Regions from separate parts of the Homo sapiens genome. Here region 2 is linked to region 1. Evidence: fine-mapped expression QTL. A gene starts in region 1. The other region holds a variant in brackets. All regions are shown on one strand. Distances are from middle to middle. Region 1 holds the start of MKI67 (marker of proliferation Ki-67). Region 2 overlaps MKI67 (marker of proliferation Ki-67).

Region 1 (11,844 bases):
AAGCATGGGAAAAGATATACCATGCAAACAGCAAGCAGAGGGGAACTGGAGTACTGTACTAACATGAGACAAAATCATCTCAGACAAAAGTTATTCATAGAGAAAAAGGACATTTTATATAAGGATCAATCCAGCAAGAAGATATTCCAGTTAAACACAAGAGGTCACCTGACAACAGGTTCCAAGAGACAACTTAAACCATAACAATTATGAAAAGTTAAAATTAAGGGGGTGGAAAAGTTATACTACACAAGCACTCATCAAAAGGAAATTAGTTTAACCATACTCATCATCCAAAGGAAACATTAAGCAGAAAAGAAAGCACTACTAAAAACAGAGGACATCTCTAAATGACAGAGTTCCATGCACCAAGACATCATTCTAAGTTTGTACACCATAGTACAGCCTCAAAATATACAAAGCAAAAACTGATAGAGATAAAAACAAATCAATCAATCAATCCTCAGTAGGTGATTTGAACATATCTCTTAGAATAATAGTAGGGGAAAATTTACTAAGATTATAGATTTGAATCTAACGGGAGTGTGTGTATCTGTATATGTGTATATATATTACATATTATATATGTATATATTATATATTATATAATATAAATATATTGTATATATATTGTATATGTATTATATATACCATATAGTATATACTGTATACAGTATATACTATATGGTATATATAATATATATTATTATATTATATATTACTATATAACATATAGTATATACTATATAATATTATATATTATATTATAATTATATATGATTATATATAATATATTATAATTATATATTATATAAGTGATATATATAATAATTATATATTACATATATATGAGACACTGTAGAATACAGTTTTCAATTACACAAGGCAGATTAGTAAGATAATTAGCCATATCTGCTCATAAAGCAAACCTTGACACATTTCAAAGACTAGACATTAGTCAAATGTCCATCAAGAATGAATGAATTCTGTATAGTTATGTATATTATTGTATATATTAAACATTTTTTTTTCAGTGAAATACTTATGCCATGAGAAGGAACAAACTACAGAGATGTCCAACATGCTATGAATCTCACACACAGAAAAGCACAAGCCAGGCACAAATGTATACATTCTTGTATCACTGTTAAGGACTTTTATAAGAACAGACAAAACTATCGTGTTCAGAGATCCATGCTTAGGTAGTGAAACTCGAGACGTTTATGATATCCTAAAAGCCAAAACGGTGGTTTACTTGCTGAGGGAATGAAGTAGTGATTAGACAACAGCATTTTTAAAAAGCTTCTGGAAATGTTCTATATGAGCTGAGGATGTATTAGTCTGCTAGGGCCACCATAATAAAGTCCCACAGACTGAATGCCTTGAAAAACAGACATGCCCTTCTCAGTGCTGGAGGCTGGAAGTCCAAGAGCAAGGTGTCAGCTGGATTGGATTTCTCTGTGCCTCTCTCCTTGACTTGAAGATGGCTGCCTTCTTGCTGCCTCTTCTCATGGGCTTTCCTCTGTGCACGTGTTCCCTAATCTCCACTTATAATGACACCAATCATCAGATTAGGGCCCATACTAATAGCTCAAAAAGCCTTCATTGCCTTTTTAAATGCCCTCTTTCCAAATACAGTTACATCCTAAGGTACGAGGGGTTAGGAATTCAAAATATGAATTTCGGGAGAGCACAAATCAGTCCATAATAGGTGGTGATCAAAAGGGTGTTCACATGATAAATTGACCTGTCCATCTTGTTTTGTACCTTTTTCTCTGTGTATATTTTGCTTTAAAATAAAAAAGAATAGAAAAATCTCATGCAGTTTCAAAACACTTGGAAGAAAATAACAAACTCCTTTAGGACAAGGTCAACCTCCCTCTGCATAATTATTTGCACCCAAATCCTTGAATTCCATCACATTTTGTCCCAATTAGTCATCTTCCTAGATCCATATCCTTTTAAATTAAGATTAGTGTTGAGAATGAAAACCTGAAATACTTTGACATCCATGAACATTAAAGAAGAATGACAGTTGACTTTGACACTAGTTTATGGTTAATCAGAAGATGACATTTACTGTTAGACCAATCAGCTTTTACCTACCTGAAGGAACGATCAATAATAGTTATTACATCTCCATGTTTTAGCCGTACAGGCTCATCAATAACAGACCCATTTACTTGTGTTGGATTTGTGGAACTGAAATTATGTAATATTGCCTGCAAGTGAAAAGAAGGGGAAATATGTAACTAATGAACAGATTAAAAGTGAACTAAAAAGCTTTAAAAGTAGATCTTCAAAAAACCCACTCACCTCCTGCTCATGGATTTCAATTTTGCAATGTTGTTTTGACACAACAGGAAGCTGGATACGGATGTCACATTCAATACCCCTTCATGCAAAAGAAGAAGGTTTTTTTGGTTGCTGCAACTTTTTAAAAGATTACCTCAATTTCCCAAAATAAAACACAATTTGACTAGAATGTTTGATCTGTAAATATGACATAAAGGAGTAACAAACAAAATGGGCAATGTAAACGATCTTGCATTTTGCAAAGAACTTTTGGAAGTATTAAACATGTAACTATTAGATCTTTAAAACAGAGAGTATGTAAAAACAAGGGAAAACACTAGAACACAAATCGAATTACCTTTTATATGAAAAGCTATACTTAAAAGACACAAAGGAATACTTACATCAATTTTGGATAATGACTATTTTTAATACTCTGTGCTTTTTCAAAAACGTTTGTTTGTAATGTTAAATATGTTTAGAGGTTTAATCATCCCCAAATGTGCTTATTTGATGCTAGCACTTCTGTGCATCAGTTTCTTCATATACAATAAAGAAATTACATTAGAACCTACATCATGTGATGTTCAATTAAATGGTTGTACATGTCACTAATTTGCCTAGCACATAGTAAATGCTCATTATGGGTAAGCTTTTCATTGTTGTTTTAAAACTACACTGAATTTACTGACAGATTCAAGTCTCTAAACAATAAAAATACTAATTTGCAAGCGACACAAAAAAAAAATCTAAATTCAACTTGTTTTTCCACAGAAAGCTAACACCATGGCAAAGTAGCAGAAGAGACAATTCCTAAACCTATACAAACTAATAATCAGAAGAGTTTGTTAGTAGGTTCTTGGAGTCTTCAGTGTTCCTGTTCTAGCCTGTGATCTTAAAAATTTGAATAAACTATGCAATGGCCTGTCTGTTCTCCATCTGAACCTTTGGAGTCTAAGAATCTCTCTTCCTACCCAGGTCATGTGACCAAACACTTAGGAATTATTTCTAAATTATAAAATCTTGCATGAAGATATATTCAAGGAGTACTGTATAAAAAAGCAAAAGGACTGCCACTGGAGATGAAATGTTTATATTTTTCCTTTTCAAGAGAAAGGTATCTATGGAAAGTGAAAAGCTTCCTTAACCCCAATAAAATAATTTGATTTTAAGGTAACAGGACATCAGAGCAAAGGAAAGACTATCCCTTACAACTGAGAATTTGTTTGGCAGGAGGACGACTATAGATGGGTGTTTCTGAGCTTTGGCACTGTTGACATCTTGGGCCAGATGCTTCTGTATTGTGGGGGCTGCCCTGAGCCTGGTAGGATGCCCACCCTGACCTCTCCTCCGCGATGACAGCGCATGCCCCTGTCCTATATTGTGACATGGAAATTCAAATGAATCCTGGAAGGTTAGATGACCCTCCTGTGAGAACCACTGTTCTCAAGAGATTGCAAATCCATGGCTCCAGCCCATGTTTCTACTGACCCTTGCCAGAATGCTAGGTATTGATCACACCCCCTATGCCAGACACCATCCCTGGCCCTACACACGTGATTAGTAACAAGACAGTCTTTGCCTTTGGGGAGCTCAGCCTAGTGGGAGACAAACCCACAACTCACCCCTGAAGCTGTGGGGTTGGAAATACAAGTTTTCATGCAAGGCTTCCTCAGAGGTGACATTTCACCTGATGCCTGAATGATGGAAATCACACAAGCTTGAGGAAGGGGAGAACTTTCCCATTGTAAACTTCCAAGTGTGTAAGAAGTACCAAGGTGAACAAAGGCTTGGAATGCCTTAGGCGGGAGGAACAAGGTAGGGGATGGGGTTGGGAGGACAGGGTGAGGCCGGGATGGGGTTGGGAGGACAGGGTGAGGCCTGAATCCCGTGTGGTCTGGGAAATGACCACACGGGAAATGACCCCCCTTCTCAGGCCTCTAGTGGGACACATGTCAGAGGCTGATGGGGCACTGTCAGCAACTATACCTGTTATACAGGGACAGGGTTATTACCACCACCAAACAGGACAGCAATATAAGAGGAAACGTTCTCGAATTCCAGGCAGGAAGACTTTCTGTCCCATTTTCCTATTGCCACAAGGAGCCAAGAGACAAGTGTATGGCTTCCTTCCTTCATTCTCTGTGTCCCCAGTGGCCAGGGATGCCCACTGTGGAGGCACCCGGGGGCGCACAGTGTCTTCAGACGCCTGCCTGCAGCCAGTGACATATGAAGATCATCTACATCTTTCTTTACCGCAACATTAGCAAATCGATTTTTTTAATTGGCTTGATTTTTAAAACCACTTAAACATACAAACTAGCATCAAATTTATACTTACAAAACAAAAAAACACAACTATGTCAACTTAGTAACGAATGGGAGAAGCACCAAGGAAAAGTGACGGCAGGACCCAATCCTAGAGCGCGTTTCTGGACTTTATTCTGTGACTAAGGTATTTTCCTCTTTCTCAGCTAAAACGTCCGCGCGCGCCCGCGGGGCTCACCTTCCAAACAAGCAGGTGCTGAGGCTCAGGGGAAAGTGGGGACCGTCGACCCCGCTCCTTTTGATAGTAACCAGGCGTCTCGTGGGCCACATTTTCTAAACAGTAAGTTGAGTATAATCCGTAGGGGAAGGCCAGGTATAATCCGTAGGGGAAGGCCAGAAGCAAATTTACAACTCTTCCACTGCAAAAGAGGTGCGAGTTACTCTGATAGCAAAGGAGCTAAGAAGGGCCCCGTGCCCAATTCACCTATCCCCGGCCACAGAAGCGCACACCGCAGCTAGCTAGCGGGGACCCCAGGACGATCCGACCGCAGCCCCCGGCGCCCCAAAGTCCGGCAGCTGGGGTGTTGTCGCCAGCGCCTGCGCCTCCTGGGAGCTTCCACCGAGACGCCCTCGCCAGAGCCCAGGAGGAGTCGGGCCCAGGCCGCGCGTCTGTCCCCTGCCCGTCCCCGCAGAGCTCGGGGGGTCCCCGCGGCTCAGCCCTCGACCCCGGACAGCTCCCAGGAGTCCCGGCCGCAGCTCACCTGGGACGATCCGGCCCGCAAGGCCACTTGTCGAACCACCGCTCGTCAAGTCGCACCCAAAGTCCGCCGCAGGAGGAGCCGGCGCCGCGCTCACCTCCGCCCGGTAAGCTGCGCCCGCCACGCTCCGCACACACCGGGCCGCAGCCCGCGGGGTCGCGTTCGCTGCACCCCGGCCTGCAGTCCCCGCTGCTCCCGCCGCCGCCTCTGACGGGGACCCGGTGGCCCTACAGGCTACGTCCCCGGGCGCCCGGCTCTAGCGGCTCCCACCGAGTCGAGTCCTCCCGCCCGCCCGCCCGCCCGCAGCGTCAGCCCTCCACTTCCTTCTTCCAGCCCGGCGCGCCCGCCCAATTCAAACGAAAACGAAGATTCAAATTCTGGCGCTAAGCGCTGCGATTGAACGGGAAAGCGCGGCATGGGACCAATAGGAAGGGAGCGCAGGGCGTGGGCGGGGAGGGGGCGGGGAAACCGGGCTCGCGGGGCGGGGCTGGCGTGTCCGCGGGCGAGCCACTCACGCATCCGGAGGAAAATACCTGGGTGCATCCCCGGCGAGGGCGGCTGGCGGAGGGCAGAGGTGGAACACGCTCCCACCGAGATAACCCGTCCTGCTATCCTTTTCTTAAAGGACCAAACATCTGGGACACTATAACATTACTCATTGCCAGAAGATTTAAAACTGCTAAAAATTAAAAACAGGCGGGACGCGGTGGCTCACGCCGGTAATCCCCGCACTTTGGGAAGCTGAAGCAGGAAGATCCCTTGAGCCCGGGAGTTCAGAACCAGCCTGGGCCACCTGGAGAGAACCCATCTCTACAAAAAATTCGCCAGGCGTGGTGGCGCCCCTGTAGTTCTAGCTACTGGGACAGCTGAGGTGGGAGGATCGCTTGAGCCGGGGCGGTCGAGGCTGCAGTGAGCTGAGATCGCGCCACTGCACTCCAGCCTGGGCGACAGAGCAAAGCCCTGTCTCAAAAAAAAAAAAAAAAAAAAAAAAAAAATCGAAACCTTCCTCTTCAGTGCATACATCTTACCAAACACAAAAACAACCAATTATATAAAGTAGTTTGGTGTGTCTTTTCCTGCTATACGTGTATTCTCTTTTTCAAAAGCACAGAAAAAAAGGTCATAACATACACAACACGATTCTATACTTTGTGCTCTCTGCTTTTAAATATCCTGAGGCTATCTCCACTGAACACATTCTCGCTTTTACTCTCTGATGGCTGCAGAGCACTGGGCTTCGGGAAACCATAATTTACTTAATCATTACTATTGCCACATACTTAGGTTTACAATGTTTTGTTATTAGAAAACATTCTTCAATTGAAATGGCTTGTGCATGCCAAGATGGGTGAATCCTAAAATAATTCTACACAGGATTCTATCGGGGTCTGCTTCAGTTGCGCTGGTGGCCATGTGGGCTCAGTAGGCCACCTGGGGTGAAGTGAATGGAGCCTAAACACGCTTTTGGTGACAACGGCCTCTCTGCCCCATCTCACCTCCTCCAGCTCCCCAGCAACCCTTGGAGCTTGGCTCCCTTGATCAGGGAGGCCTCGATGCAGGGGACCCCTGAGGACTTCCTATTCCTTTCAGAGAGTCCATAAGGTCAAAACCATTTATCTAATGACCCTCTGTGTTACTTGCCCTTCTCATTCTCATGCTCCCAAGAGTGTGGGGTGTGGTTCTGCAAATGCAGAAGCAGTGAGGAGACTCCCACTGTCTCCGTTTCAACCAGGTATTACAGAGATTTGCAAAAATGTGAACTAAAGCGCTGTTTTCATTTTGTTGTTTTTTTTCCATAAAAATAAGTTATTGGTGTTAGCATGAAATAGGTGCATCACTATCTTAAAATGAATCAATAAATGAATATTTTTAAATTCCTTAGCCTTAACTTAAAATATATAAATATAGCTAGATATAACCCATCCACATTAACAAAAATTCCTGGTGGTTCTCAATAATTCTTAAGAGTGTAAAGGGACCACAAGATTGAAAAGACTGAGCCCTCTGCTCTAGAGCAACTACAAAGATATCAGCTGCTGATGGAAATAGAGAAACTGGGAAAGCAACATAAAAGCACAGGACAGCAACTCTAAATTGTATGGGCCAAGTCTGACGTAGAAAAATTCAGTGCGGGGATACTATTATATAAACGTTTTAGGGGGCATGAGTTTCCATGTTTTCCCCCATTAAACGATCAAACAAAGCCCACCACTGCATAACCCCATAAAACACAACTTTTCTCATCCTAATTACTGCTTGTTTCCAGAGACAGTTCTTCCACCCTCATGGATGCAGCCTAATTAGAACTAGAAGGTGCTAGGCCAGGCGCAGGGGCTCATGCTTGTAATCCCAGCACTTTGGGAGGCCAAGGTGGGTGGATCATGAGGTCAGGAATTCAAGACCAGACTGACCAATATGGTGAAACCCCATCTCTACTAAAAATACAAAAATTAGTCGGGTGTAGTGGCACACGCCTGTAGTCCCAGCTACTCGGAAGGCTGAGGCAGGAGAATCACTTGAACCCGGGAGGCAGTGGTTGCAGTAAGCCAAGGTCACGCCACTGCGCTTCAGCCTGGGCAACAGAGCGAGACTCCATCAAAAAAAAAAAATAGAAAAGAGAGAGAGACAGAAAGAAAGAACGAAGGAAAGAAAGAAAGAAAAAGAAAGAAAGAAAGAGAGAGAGAAGAAAAAGAGAGGAGAAAAAGAAAGAAAGAGAGAAGAAAAAGGAAGAAAGAAAGAAAAACATTTTGAGTTACTTCTTTGAAACATTTTGAGTTACTTCTTTTCTGTTGTTGCTGTTGTTGTTTTTCTTTTTTGAGATGAAGTCTCACTCTGTCCCCCGGGCTGGAGTGCAGTGGTGCAATCTCTGCTTACTGCAACCTCCGCCTCCCAGGTTCAAGCGATTCTCCTGCCTCAGCCTCCCAAGTAGCTGGGATTACAGGTGTCTGCTGCTAAGCCCAGCTATTTTTTTTTTTTGTATTTTTAGTGGAGATGGGGTTTCACTTTTTTTTTTTTGAGACTGAGTCTCACTCTGTCACCCAGGCTGGAGTGCAGTGGCACAGTCTTGGCTCACTGCAACCTCTGGCTCCTGAGTTCAAGCAATTCTCCTGCCTCGGCCCCCTGAGTAGCTAGGACTACAGGTGTGAGCCACCACGCACAGTTTATATATATATATATATTATGTGTGTGTGTATATATATGTATGTGTGTGTGTGTGTGTGTGTATATATATAGTATACTGTCGCTATATATATGTATATATGTATATATATGTGTGTATATATATAGTATACTGTCTCTATATATAGTATATAGTATGTGTGTATATATATAGTATACTGTATATATAGTAATTATATATAGTATATATACTATATATAACAATTATATATAGAGTATATATACTATATATAATTAGTATATATATTACTATATATATATATATATATATAGTAATTTTAGTAGAATCAGGTTTTCACATGTTGGCCAGCTGGTCTCGAACGCCTGACCTCAAGCAATCCGTCCGCCTCGGCCTCCCAAAGTGCTGGGTTTACAGGCGTGAACCACCGTGCCCAGACTTCTTCCTGGCTTTTAATCTGGTCTCTTGTGGGGAGGTTGCCCACACTTTTCTTCCCAACTTTCTTCTCTGTTACGTAAGTCAGGGACAATGTATAGTTCCTTCCAGACTTCCGTATTCTACTTTCATTGATCTTGGACCTACAAGTCGGTTTTGTAGCTCCATTTTTGGAGTTTTATTTTTTTCATGATCTTCTTTCCATTTTCATCTCCTTTAAATAGTTTCTACTAATATAGGAAAACTACGGATGTATTGTTCTTTATTGGTTATGTTTCTTGTTCTTGGACACAAAGGCATTCCCTAGGGAAATCAGAAGACATCTACAAAATTCCAATAATGATTGAAACAAATCTCAAAATTCAACTAAAAGTAAACTCAAAAAGAAATGCATTTAAAAATATTAGGCTGATTAATTTTTTAAGATGTCAGTAATCTAAGATATCCAATATGATGCTTTGCCAATCTATGAACAAGAAAAGTCTGATTATAACAGCTTACATTATAGCAAAATGCCCCATTACACAGGCATCAAATGAATTTCTTATCACTTAGTCATCTCTGCTAAAACAAAACAAAACTCTTCATGACTGGACTTTCGTCATACTTCTCTCCACACACTAGTAACCTCTCTAACAACTCCAACAATTATGTTGACTGCAGAATACACATTCCCTGTATGTACTGCTCTGATTGTTTTCCTATTTGTACCCAATGCTCCTGATGATAGTGTCTAGAGCAACATAAGACTAAGCTGCCCATCTTTTCACTGAATAATTTTTCACACATTTGAAGATGAACACAACTCATTCACTTCCTGAAATATTCTCGTTAAAATTTTTATTAGCAGTTTTTGCTGTTATTGTTGTTGTTTGTTGTTGTTGAGATGGAGTCTCGCTCTGTTGCCTAGGCTGGAGTGCAATGGGCATGATCTCGGCTCACTGCAACCTCCACCTCCTGGGTTCAAGCAATTCTCCTGCCTCACCCTCCCGAGTCACTGGGACTATAGGCATATGCCACCACGCCCAGCTAATTTTTGTATTTTGGGTAGAGATGGGGTTTCATCCTATTGATCAGGCTGGTCTCAAAATCCTGACCTTAGGTGATCGGCCTGCCTCAGCCTCCCAAAGTGCTGGGATTACAGACATGAGCCACCGCACCCGGCCTTATTAGCAATTTTGACTAGTTCTTCCTTTTTTTTTTTTTTTTTTTTTGAGACGGAGTCTCGCTCTGTCGCCCAGGCTGGAGTGCAGTGGCGGGATCTCGGCTCACTGCAAGCTCCGCCTCCCGGGTTCCCGCCATTCTCCTGCCTCAGCCTCCCAAGTAGCTGGGACTACAGGCGCCCGCCACTACGCCCGGCTAATTTTTTGTATTTTTAGTAGAGACGGGGTTTCACCGTTTTAGCCGGGATGGTCTCGATCTCCTGACCTCGTGATCCGCCCGCCTCGGCCTCCCAAAGTGCTGGGATTACAGGCGTGAGCCACCGCGCCCGGCCTAGTTCTTCCTTTTCCCACACTTAGTCTGTTCCTCTATCATGCCTGAAGGATTCTTCACTATTACCTGCAGTTATTGCCTGTGTTGAATGCAGACATCTTTGAGAGAAGGTCTAAGAATAAATTCAGGTGGCATATACATTTTACAATCATGGAGATCATGTAATCATTATGGGATGGCTGCCGCCACCTTATTTGCTGTGGCCCAGTGTCCTTTAGTTTTCATGTTCCTTCTGTTTTTTAAAGGTTCAATATTTATTGCAGTGAATTGCATATTTCTTCTTCCTCTTAACACATGGGCTTTTTTCAGTGTTCAGGTGCAACATGTTGCTTTCATTTCAGTGTTAAATTGCTCTCTGGTGTCCATGAAGTATTGCAGTGTCTTTATTTTATTGGTCTTCAGGACTCTTCCAAATATTTTTAAAGGTTTTCCTCTCTCAAAACCACTTGTCTTATCCTCAGCATCATCTTGTATTTGTGTGACCTTCTTGAAGCCAGCCAGATGTTCTCAAGGTTGAGCCCTTTCCTCAGGGGCTGGTGGGTGACTCTGGCTGCCAGTTACATTTTATCCTGAGTCGGGAACATCTGTTGTAAATGATATACTGCCAATGGGAAAGAAAAAATACCATCTACTAGTTCCTATCCCAAAACATCATAGTGTTAGGAATAAAGGCAACCAATTCAAACTCTTTAGAGTTATTGGCAGAGGTTTCTTTCCTAAATTAGTTTCTTCAGACTTTTTTCAAGCAAAATTTCTGAATCTGAAAGAGTGACAAAACATTTGTTCATCATTTGTGGTTTCTTCTTCACTGGAGTGTTGAGCCTTTCAGTTAGCTGTGTTAAATGAAGATATTTGAAAAGGAATTAACGTATTGCCTATAAATGCAAAGGACCATCCCAATCCCTACATATAAAAACCAAACGATTGGGAATAAACATCAGATCACTGCCTAGATTTCTGCTGGGCTGGTCCTGAAATAAGGTGATTCCATGAATATCGTACTCAATTTTTTTAGAGTTCATTGAGAAGATACACAATATATCTTCTCATCTTTCCCTTTCCTGTTTGAAAATAAATCAAATGAAAGCAGTTGACCTCAGTCATCTACCAACCAATCCCCAGGTGGAGCTCTGGCGGGAGGATAGGACTTGGCCATCGGTGCTTTCACGTCCTGCCTCCTCTCCAGGTTCTAGAATCCTAGTGCCCTTGGGCTCTCTTCTAAACATCTCGGGTCCTAAAGTTCTGGATTTAATATAAAAAGAAAATGCTCCTGCATTTTATAAAATCACAGAGGGCTGTTCATATTTAGTGTTGTCAAGTAAACATGTATTAGAAAAACAGCTAGTATCATCATGTTTCTATTTTAACACCAAAAAAATAGTATTGACATAATGTCAGGAAAAAAAAAGAACACCAAATAAAGAACTGTAAGTGGAACATTTAAGTTTCTGAAAC
Region 2 (11,844 bases), 31 kb before region 1:
GGAGGACACCCACTCCCTGCCCCCAAGGAGGTCAGCACTGCCCATGGGATATACACATCCTCTACGTTTCTATTCTGTTGATAGCCAATATCTTGCATTTTGTAATTATAAACAGAACCTTGATTTTTAATAGTTTTACCACCTATATTTGCATCTCTAAACAGCAGTTTATTTTTGCCTATTTTTGAGCATTTTATAAATGAAGTTAACTTTATGTATTAAGGCTCAGGTTTTGAACGTACAAACTGTACCACACTGATTCAAATAGACATAGTTCATGTTGTGTTTACTAATATTTCAAGTAAAATAATGTAATTACAGGTATAATGTTTCTTCAAATCATGCAGCTCTCAGTAGAGTCTATTTATAGCAAAGATGCTTCACATTTGAAACCAACAGTGACTGGCAAATAGAATCCACCAGAAACCTGGGCACTCAAAATGTAACAGGCATGCAATCCATTGCAAGCCTGGTTAGGGAGGGGCTGTATCGCCTAGCATTACTCCCTAAAAAGTGGCCTCAAAACCTCAATGATAGGCAACAGGGGCCCACTTTGGGCATCTTCGCAGCCGTTGTCATAAAAAGTTTACATTCAGAAACTGGTCTCACCACTTCACTGCTCTCGCCGCAAGCACAGAGCACCATTATCTCCAGCAATTCCCAAGACCCTCACTCGCCCTGCACCTTACATTTCTTTGGCTCTGTATGGCAGTCACAGCTCTAAAGCTTCTAGTTGCAGAAGTTACTCCAGTGGGAATACTCCAAGTATGCCTCGTCCTCGCTTGCCTTGGCTTCTGCATAAGGTTAGTAAGAAGCAAAGCATGGCCAGGACTCCAGGGAAATGAATGGACGAAGACCAAGAAAGCCAGATGGCATAACCAGATAGCAAAACCAAGACATCATGGGCCACTTTGATGCTCAAGCCACCACCCACTGTCATTAACCGGGACAGGGAGGGGGTGGTGTGTTTTATGAATGGACTTGGTGCCTTCCATAATTCCCTCATCCTCAGAATCATGAACCGAGACACATACTTTGGGTTCTCCTTTCTGGGATGAGAGACGTGCAGATCTGTGTGGTCCAAGTTTGAATACTAGGGCCATCCTGCCTCTTTAGAATTCTGGGACGACCTCTCTTGCCAGATGCTGTTCCTCTGCCCTAATGGAATGTGGCGTCACAGTGCAGGGCTGAGGTCAGATCCACTCTTCTTAGTGGACACGACCTTCAGTTTTATAGAGCAAGAGGGTCTCATCTTAGAATATGTCTTTAAGTGACTGATTTTTAATCATTTACTTATTTGTTTGTTTATTTATTTATTGAGATGGAGTCTCGCTCAGTCGCCAGGCTGGAGTGCAATGGCACGATCTCGGCTCACTGCAACCTCCGCCTCCCGGGTTCAAGCGATTCTCCTGCCTCAGCCTCCTGAGTAGCCGGGACTACAGGCACCAGCCACCACACCCAGCTAATTTTCGTATTTTTAGTAGAGACAGGGTTTCACCATGTTGGCCAGGATGGTCTCGATCTCTTGACCTCATGATCCACCTGCCTCGGCCTCCCAAAGTGCTGGGATTACAGGCGTGAGCCACCATGCCCGGCCTAAATGAATGATTTTAAACCATATCCCTTTTCAAGTCACAGCAGTGCAACGCCTTAAAATCCAAGGCCCGTTTCCCTCTTGCTTTGATTGGTGGGCACAACCCTTAGTTCTTAGGAACCCAGGGGAACAGAGGTTGGGAAGAGAACTGCCGTGAGAAACCCAAATTGTTTAGGTGGCATCTGGGGTCAGCTAGACATTGACGAGGCAGCTCTGTGATGCTGGCTGGGCTTATTCACATTCACGTCTGGGGATTGGCTGGTAGTTGGGTAACCCCAACTAGCCTGGGCTGGGGGGCCGGGGTAGCTCAGCGGTCTTCCATATGGCTGTCGTCTTCCAACAGGCTCGTGTGGGTGAAGGCAGGCACAGACGGTGCACACACATGGCCCATTGCTTCCCCGACCAACCTGGAATCCAAAGGAAGAGGCAGGCGAGCAAAGCGGGCTGTACAGAGGAGGGGGCAGAGGTGCTTCTGAGAGGGGTATCGGACGGTGCTCAGGGAGCCTCAGGGGCCACCTAGCGTTGTGTTACCTCCAAAGCAGTGCTTTCTCGGAGTAACAGAGGGCGGGCCCAGAGCCAAATAGCTGGATTCTGAAACACAAAGAGCTACCACGAGACTAGTTTTTATTACACTAAAAATTCTTCATTAAGTTTTTATCATTGCCAACCTAAATCTATATAAACATATAATATATTTTATGTATATATTATTTTTACTTAAATATGTATGTATATATTTATAACATTTTATATACATATTTGTGTATAAATTTTCATAGATAATATTTATATATTTATATAGAACTTAGGTTGCCAATGATGAAAACCTAGTGAATAATATTTAGTATATTTATATATTTTATATAGTTATGAATATATAATATACTTAAGTTATATACATTACATTAAATATATTTAATTTATATTATACACAATATATTAGATTATATCTATAGTTATCATATTTATATATAAATACATACGCTTATATATAAATATAGGTAACTTTTCCCCTAAGTTGCTCCTATAGTTGTTTTTGGCTCTAGGGGACATGGAAGCAAGCAGGCAGATGAGGGGCCCAGGAATAAGTGACTCACTTCAGCACAAGCTGCATCTCCCGAGCCAGGGTGGAAATTTAGGAATTTGCTGATACACAGTCATGCCCCTCCTCCCTCCCAACATCAAAATTGACAGTGCTGCCTGGCCTGACCCGCCTCCCCTTGCTCATATCAGCCTGGCCTGGATCTGAGACCCCTGCCCAAGAGGGGCCTTGGATATAATTGCACTTCTCCTTTTCCAGACCCCACACAAGAAATAAGAAAAGCCTGGAGTCGTGTCCAGTCCTGACTGCTCCTTTCCCAGAGTTCTAGGCCTCTCGAAGGCTGAGGCCACGCTGGGATAAGAGGAAGACGGCACCGCTTGGAGACCTTCTGAGAATGGGGGCCAGGCTACACAATCCACCCGAGTTTTCTTCTTTTGTCCTCACAACCCTACGAGGCAAGAAATTGCCATCTTCACTCTCCCAGCTAGGGAAACTGAGGCTCAGAAAGGCCAAGCAATGGGCCCAAGTCATGCAGCGAGCAAGGGACAGGGCTGGGATTGGAAGCCAGGCCTCTCAGCTTCCAACGTCCTGGGGCTGGGAGCCGGTGGGGGTTCCAGGGCCCGGGAAGACCCCAAAGCCCAAAGTGAAATGCACCCTCTGCTCATGACCCGTTATATTGCAAGGGCTGCTAATTTCAATGTGATATGTCCTAGGAGGCATATATGTTAAATCACTCATTTCTCTAGATCAGGGATATGCAAACCAAGGTCCTCAGTCAAAATGGGCCCACAGCCTGGTTTTTGTTGTTGTTGTTGTTTTCTTGCTTGTTTTGTTTTGTTTTGTTTTGCTTAAGATGGAATCTCACTCTGTCACCCAGGCTGGAGTACAGTGGGCTGGATCTCAGCTGACTGCACCCTCCGCCTCCCTGGTTCAAGCAATTCTCCTGCCTCAGTCTTCTGAGTAGCTGGGATTTCAGGGGCCCACCACCACACCTGGCTAATTTTTGTATTTTTAGTAGAAACTGGGTTTCGCCATGTTGACCAGGCTGGTCTCGAACTCCTGGCCTCAAGTGATCCACCCGCCTCAGCCTCCCAAAGTGCTGGGATTACAGGCGTGAGCCACCGTGCCCAGCCCCACAGCCTGTTTTTATTAGCCATTTTTTGGACATGCCTGTTTGCTTGCGTGTTGCCTACAGCCGCTTCTGTTCTTTAACAGCAGAGGTGAGTCAGCATAACAGACAGTATGGCCCACGAAGCCGCCATATTTACTGCCTGGTCCTTGACAGAAAAAGTTTGCTAATTGCTGACCTGGATTAAAATCCACAGAACCTTTTCTATGCAGGGATGTGCTTCCCTATGTCCTGGCCATGCCTGGTCCCAGCACCACCTGTTTTAGCCAGACCTGTGTCTGGGCCAAGCTCAGCAAAGTTCTGCGATCTGATGTCATTTAAAGACACTGTTGACTGGGCATGGTGGCTCACGCCTGTAATCTCAACACTTTGGGAGGCCAAGGTGGCTGGATCACCTGAGGTCTGGAGTTTGAGACCAGCCTGGCCAACATGGTGAAACCCTGTCTCTCCTAAAAAAAAAATTACAAATATTAGCCAGGTATGTGTGGTGCATGCCTGTAATCCCAGCTCCTCAGAGGCTGAGGCAGGAGAATCTCTTGAACCTTGAAGGCAGAGGTTGCAGTGAGCCAAGATTGTGCCACTACACTCCAACCTGTGCAACAGAGTGAGACCGTCTCAAAAAAAAAAAAATAAAAGACAGTGTTAATATGGTATCAGATTGTGGCTGCCACATCACACATATTCTTTTCTCCTGCAGAGGCCATATTCAGTTTGGATAACCCTGAAATTTGGTTACTCGACTCTTAGTTAAATAATGTTTCTTTGCATTGTTGGTGGTTTGGGTAGTTTTCAATACGTGGGCTCGATGAAGACATAGACATATTATTCAGGATTTTTATTTTTCTTTTTTGAGACAGGGTCTTGCTCTGTTGACCAAGCTGGAGTGCAGTGATACAATCATAGCTCACTGCAGCCTTGAACTCCTGAGCTCAAGCAGTCCTCCCACATCAGCCTCCCAAGTAGCTGGGACTACAGGTATGTGCCACAATGCCCGCTAATTTTTTCTTTTCTTTTTTCTTTTTTTTTTTTTTTTGTAGAGATGGGGTCTCGCTATGTTGCCCAGGCTGATCTTGAACTCCTGGCCTCAAGCGATCCTCCAGCCTTGGCCTCCCAATGTGCTGGGATTACAGGTGTGAGCCACTGCCCCTGGTTATTCAGGCCTGTTACGTTCCAGATTCTTCCTTCACTTCCATAGAGAAATCCCTAGTGATAAAGAATTTATGAGCCAAGGGAAATATCTTGGAGTTTTAGGCATCTAATAAATATATTCATCTTCTGATGATGATGATAATTAGCATGTATTGATGCTTACCAAGCTCTGGGTAAAATGCTAAGTGTTTTACACATATTGTCTCATTTAATCTTCTCAACAATGCTATGTGCTCAGGTACTGAACAGCCTCATTTTACAGATGGGAAACTAGCAAAGTTGAAAGACTGTCCACGTTCACACAGCAGCAAATTAGACAAGCTGGAATTTGCACCTGTGCATTTGACTCCGAAGTCTGAACTCTCTCTAGGAATTTACACTCTGCAAGGGTGTGGAACACATACCAGACATCACATAAACTTTACAAATGATAAAGGAGCACCTGCCCTAACCCCAAGCAGACAGACAACAAGGGCCAGGATGGATTTTAGAACACTCTGACCTGTGAGAGAGGCGGACAGGCCTGCACCAGCTGTATTTCTGTAGTGACATACACAGGTGTATCACGCAGGGAGCCTGTCCAGTCACGGAGCCCTGGGACTGTACCATCAACACAGTTTTTGTTTGTTTGTTCTTCAGGTGACATCGAGAGCTCCCCCTGGGAGGTGGGGTTGGGGATGCTCCTTAGGAACCTCACTGGAAAGATGAGTCAAGCAGGTATCCAAGTCCAATTACCCGGCTCAGGGCTTGACATCACAGATGTGGGACTTGCCTGAGATGGGGCTGATGAGCAGGAAGCTGA[T/C]TGGGGCCCTTGCAGGGCAACACACAACAAACCAATCAAACCTCCTTCCTGAAATCACTGTGCGCGCTGTGGGGGTGGCAGCGGGGGAGGGGGGGCGTGGCTTCCTGCCAATACATCATGGGTATTATTTGTTCCCTCATGAAGAGCAATAGCAATGAAATCCACATTTCCAAATTATGGAGTGCTGTGTGCCTACGTGGCACTCAATGCCAGTAATACCAGGATGGGGGTTTGGTGACTGTGTCCTGGAGATGCCTTGGGGGTCTGGGAGCACCTGGACAGCACAGAAATCAGTTTCTCCAGCTGTAACCAGAGTGCCAGGAGATTCCTGCAGTTCATCTAGAGGACTTTTCCAGGAAACCCAGCAAACAGTAGGATCTCAGCCACACGAAATCATTTAGTTAAGTAGCTACAGTTTACTTTATGGAGTCGCCGTTTGCCATGTTAATTCTTGATGACAGCCCAGGATGTGGGCTGCAGACTGAACCCACTTCCTTCACCAGACTGACCACCGAGCACGGCTCTCCCTCCCTCCTCAGCCTCTCAAGATGGTAGATGCACCCACCTGCAAACTTTTCTCTCCGACAGAAAGGCCTCTTCTTCAGGACTAACTGACCTACCGCAGGCTACTGCCCCTGGAACTTGCCAGCAAATTCACTCCCGGGATCCATGTCAAATCAGGGTTGCCAGAGGAAAGTCAGGGCATGTATTTTCATCTGCTGACTTGGGGCAGCCCTGGGTCAAATCCCCATCCCTCAACTCAGCACCTCTGTTGCAACAAAGCAGGCACAGCTGCGGTTGCAGGTAGTTCTCGAGATACAGCAGGCCATTCCTGCAGGACTAAAAGCAGCTGCGATGACTTATTGGCCAAGAGAGAAAATGACCATCCAGCCAAGTCCTTGTAGAAATGAAAATGGAACGTAATGAACCAGTCTCTCTTACACTGGCCTGTCTGCCCCACCCACACTTAGTTTCTTTCCCCACTCTCCCTATAATAAAAATACCATGGGTTTTAAGACCATTTCATCACATACTTTATTGGACATCTCCTGTGGCTGGTCACTGGGATAGAGTAACCAGGAAATGCAGTCGGCCCTCATGAATGAACAAAACTTACAACCCCAGGAGGGGAGCCAGAAACTCAATTAGTGGCTTAGTTTCCACAACACTACGTGCTACAAAGAGGTACAGAACAATTCCAGGCAAACTAAGAACCTGCCCCAGCCTGGAGGACAGGCATGGGGGTGAGGGAACCCACAGGCAAGAAGCCTCCCTTAAGCTGAGCTCAGGACTGGATGAAATGATCTTGGTGGGGCAGGAGGGAAAGTTCCAGGCAGGGAAAACAGCAGGGAGTGTGTGGTGGTTGGAGGTGCCTGCCTAAGGGAGGCAGGAGATGGTAGGTACAGAGTTAGTGTAAGAAAGCCCAAGAGAGGCTGGGGGACCAGATCCCACAGGCCCTGGGAGGCGAAAAAGTAAAAACAGCTTGTATTTAATGGGAATGTCCTATTACATGGAAATTCACTTGGAAACTGAAGCTCAGAGAAGTTACCATACCATGGTGGAAATGGGTGGGTATTTGTTCTCAAATCCAGTCAGCCTAGGGGAATGGGCAGTATTTGTCAGATCTCTCCCTCCCCCAGTACCAAGGAGGGTTGTGTAGAAGTGGTGTTCATCTATTAAACACGGGGGTAGCCCTTAAATGAACATTTTTAACCCATCATCAACAGCCCTGTAAAATGAAAACCACCCTTAGCGTGCTCTTGAAATACTGTACTTACCAGGGTGAGAAAAGGTGCTGACATACTTCAGCAAGATTTCTGGTTAGAGCTGAACTCTAAAGGATTTTTCTACTAAACAGAATATTCCACTCCACAGGCATATGGCTGGATGAAATTTTTCTATGTGAGGTTCATAATTACTACTAAGTCTAAAGTGTTAGAACAACTTGATCATAGCAACATTCCTACTGAAAGTTTTGAGGTTGGCCTACGTAGAAGGAAGCATTTATGCCTCACACCTTCCAAAGTGCCTCTGCTAAGAGCCACTCTTCCTTGAACACCCTCCCCTGTTCTGCCCTGGTGCAATCCCTGTACCCTTTGCAGCCCTGTGAAGCCCTCAGATGTCCCCTCCCTGCCCCTTTCTATTCCCTCCCTCAAGCAGAATGTCATTCTCCCTTACGATCATGGATGACGCTGTGAGAACCCTATCATGGCAGCCAATATAGTACAAGTCAGTACCGCTGATTTCTGCATTCATTCAGCAAGTATTTATGATGTCACCTGGCTCCCCGCCAGACACTGGGGAAACAAACGTGGAGACAGGGCACTGCCCGCACAGGGCACATTTTGGGGGACAGCTACCCTGTCTGGTGCACCATCCTCACCTGCACCTGGCAAGGTGGGTGAATGGGGAGGAATCCAGACAGGTGACCTGGGGGATGGCGGGCTATTCTCTGATTTGGGGAACACAGAGAGGACAGGGGGCAAAGTGGAAAGTAAATGAAGATGAACGAGTTATATCTACAAGTCTGAAGCTGGAGAAAGATGTCTGGGCTTCAAAGGAGATTTCGGAGGCAGCGGCTCACAAGGAAGCGATCCTGAAATCGTGGCTGAAGGTGCTGAGTGCTCAGTCTCTCCAAGGATGATGATGCTTTACAGAGTACTGGTGTCACTTCCTGTACTGGGTGGCATCGGGCTGCCAGATAGAGTCAGAAAGAAAACAGGCGGGAGCAGAGCCAGTAAACTTCCGAAGCTTTCAATGACAGGAAAGCTGGAGATTAGGAGCCAGTTTGAGGTCGTGATGGCCCACAGCCTGGGACCCTGAGATTCCGCGGGTGGAGAATGTCTCAGGTGAGAGCAACCCTAGTTAGAAAAGTATTCCCAAGAGACCAAGGCAAGCCACGAGTCACTCCTTACAGAAAGTCACTCTTGGTCCCTAAAGATGTGCTCACGAGTCATTCTCCAAAGCACAAAACTTTATTTTCAGAAAGGAAAGGACATCAAAAATAGGACTGTCCTGTGCAGATGTCCAATAGCCTTAATTTGGGGACCAAATGCCCCCGGCCATTGGAAAGACAGATCTTGTAAGCTCCATTCATCCGTGCGCTCATCCATTCATTCGTGTTTACCGAGTGCCTGCTCAGTGTTGGGACAGACGAGGATAGTTGTTCCTGCCACCGTGCCCTGGAGGACATAGGCAAACAAACGACGACACAGTGTGGCAAGTGTCACAGTTAAGGCTGCTGTAGGGTGGCTGTGGGTGGTGACAGACCTCAAGGCTTCATTCTGCAAAGCTGAGGGCAAACCTTGGCCCAGACTCCTTCACAAAGCCCCCGGTGTTCAACTATTCTCAGTCCAGGAGCCCAGCAGTGCTCCCAGTGGAGTTTATGAAGCCGATTCAGACCCAGCAAATCCAAAGTTTTCTTCCCTTAAGCAGACTGACAGCCTTACTTACAGAATTCACTTGTAATTTATGACAAAAACTGCACTAGAACTTATCACAAAACTAACTTTATTATATTTTTCCCAGTTCGATTTTTCTGTCAAATATCTTCACTGTCCCTATGACTTCTGGTTCTTATTTTCTTGACACACACATTGTCCTCAGCCTGTGTGGGAAGAAAAAAAATAGAACTCTTAAGTAATTTAAACACCCATTTTTAGAATCGACCTCCTCTGCAAAACCCCAAAGGCTTACTAGGTATTATGCAGGTCCTTAGTTGCAGAAAATTAATTTTGAGGTTGGAAATAAGTTTTAAAATATATTCCATTAACATTGTTTTTCTTGACTTGAACTGCTTTTATTATGCAGTTTTTTTACACTTAAATAATGTGATCTTTTCATACAGAAGTTCCTAATGCATTTTTAAGCTAATTCATAATAAAATTTCTTCATCGATGCACACATTTTCACAAACTAAAAAATGTCACTCAGAAAAAGTGAATCCAACCAGGATTAAGTCTTTTGGGTCTCCTAAACCAAGGAACCCCTGTAGACAGAAGCATGCCCAACTTGCATGCAGGAGACCTGCCTTGGCCTTTACTCTTGCAGTAGTTCTCACCCCTTGGCTAAGGGAGAGGAACCATGGTGAAAAGCATGGCTACAAGCTTCTTACTGGAAAAAATCTATCTTATATATGCATTTTCTAGGACTACCGACACCCACCGAAGAGCTCGGCAAAGAGGAGCATGTGTGTGTTGGGCGTCTCCTGGGTGCTTGTGTGTGAGAAGAGGCTGGAACGCCCCCGGCAGAACACACCAGGCCTGGCTCAGCCTTGGGCCTGGTTGCTCTGTGTTTAGGAATCATCCTAGTTAAAAGATTCGCTTTCACCCTTCTTTGGTTTCATTCTGAGGAAGCAGCACCTTCCAGACTGTGAATTCGGTAAGCGCCTGGAGCCTGCGTTTTATTGTAAGACTCGACGGGTGAACGTGCTGACCCACGTCAGCTGTTGCGTCCCTGGTGTGCCTGTGGTTTCTAGGACCTTGTCTGGCACTGTCGGGTGTCTTCTGCTTCCAGCCTGCCCCAGAAGTACAGTCTCTGACTTAGGACACCTGTGTGGGCATCAGTGCCCTTCTTGAGCCTCTCCTCTTCCCTCTCTGGAACAGTCTATGGGCATCTCCCCACTAGGACTTCCTGCCCACCATCCAGACACACAAGCCCTCCCCCTCCACTGGCTGCCTGGCTATGCAGCAGGTACTGGGGACACCTGGGAATCTTTCCTTTTCTTGGCAGTTGAAGCTTCCTAGTTTGTGCCGAAGAGGGTCTGTCTGGACAGCTGTACTTGCCAGAATTCTGTATCTGAAGAGGTTATTGCTACATGAGTTTCGTTTGCTGAACTCAGAATATGGTAGTTTTAGGTCCAAATTTTGTGTGTGCTAAGAATTAAATTTATATTATATTTTTGTGAATTGCTCACAAAAAGGGAGCAATTCAACCTATTTTTATTTTAGCTAAACCAAGTATTCCCCAGAAGAACACTAATGGAATCTAATCATTCTTATGGATTTGTCCACATGCTTGTAATTATGAGTGGCTCAACTTGATGTGATTTCAGTAGCACTTAAAGTTCATTAGCTTAGATAGTCTCTGGCTGGAGGAGGGTTGGAGGGCAGACGCATCCCCCACTGACCAGGAACTCTCACATAGTGAGCATGTGTCTCAGGGACATCCCAACTTCTGTTCCTTCTGCCTTTCCAAAGAATGCCTTGGAAATTTTTCTGTTTCAATAGTTTTTTTTGGAAAAAGAATTTTCCTGTTTCAAGAGGTGATTTTGAACTACAGAAAGGCTGAAGACATCTACCTACAATTGTATCATGAGGTACATCATAAGCAGTCAGAAATTAGCCACTAGACAAATTCCTTTTCTTTCTGAAGAAAGTCTTCATAACGTGAATTTGCTATTTGAAGTGAAATTCCCAAAGTAGACACAACAAAATATAACTAAAATGACCAAATTTATGTCTTAGCATAATGCTCCTTCCATTAATGTAACTGGGAGCTGGCAGAGTGCTGTTGAAGATAATGCTTTTTGTTTGCCTTTGCAACCTTGGGCAAAAAATACATCAAAACATTCTGTGTCTTTTAAAACAGGGAAACAGTAAATGGCTTACCTTCTTTGGATTTTCTGCACACCTCTTGACACTCCGCGTTACTCTCTGCACAGATTTGCTCTCCAAAGTGCTTGCTGCAGGCTGGCTTTTTGTCTTTCTTGATCTCAGGCACATGGAGTCTGAATTTCCTGCTTCTCCTTTCCCTTTCTGATTCTGCATGAGAACCTTCGCACTCTTCTGCCCTCCGCTCTCCTCTGCCACCTTAGGCTGGGAGCTCTCATTCTGTCTAGCAGACCTCAAGCACCTTTTGTTCTCAGTGACTTTGTCTCTAGGTATGGGTTTCCGGGCTCCATCATCTGGATTCTGAATGTCCATCTCTGGGGAGGTCTTCATGGGCTTCTTTTCATTTCTGTTTATTTCTATTCTTTCTGCTAATACAAAGACCTCAGTTATTTGCTGTTCTGCCTCAGTCTTATTTTGGCGTCTGGAGCGCAGGGATATTCCCTAAAGAAATGAGAAGACATCCACAAAATTCCAATAATTAGTAAAACAAACTTCAAAATTCAACAGGGAGCACAA

The links.
Region 2: its variant is fine-mapped to the expression of MKI67 in whole blood (TOPMed, PIP above 0.99).

Annotation. Positions count from the first base shown.
Region 1 is chr10:128,120,775-128,132,618 of GRCh38, forward strand. It overlaps MKI67 (marker of proliferation Ki-67), which reads right to left and starts at 5,649. Exons shown (of 15, transcript NM_002417.5): 1 at 5,325-5,649; 2 at 4,802-4,982; 3 at 2,317-2,395; 4 at 2,107-2,222. The coding sequence starts at 4,893. RefSeq lists a silencer at 5,429-5,798 and an enhancer at 5,909-6,138.
Region 2 is chr10:128,089,933-128,101,776 of GRCh38, forward strand. It overlaps MKI67 (marker of proliferation Ki-67), which reads right to left. Exons shown (of 15, transcript NM_002417.5): 14 at 11,326-11,769; 15 at 6,727-9,323. The coding sequence ends at 9,258. Among named protein-coding and RNA genes, the nearest start is that of MKI67, 31 kb to the right of the region's middle. RefSeq lists enhancers at 1,455-1,956, 1,957-2,456. The variant T/C (reference allele first, on the strand shown) is at 5,717.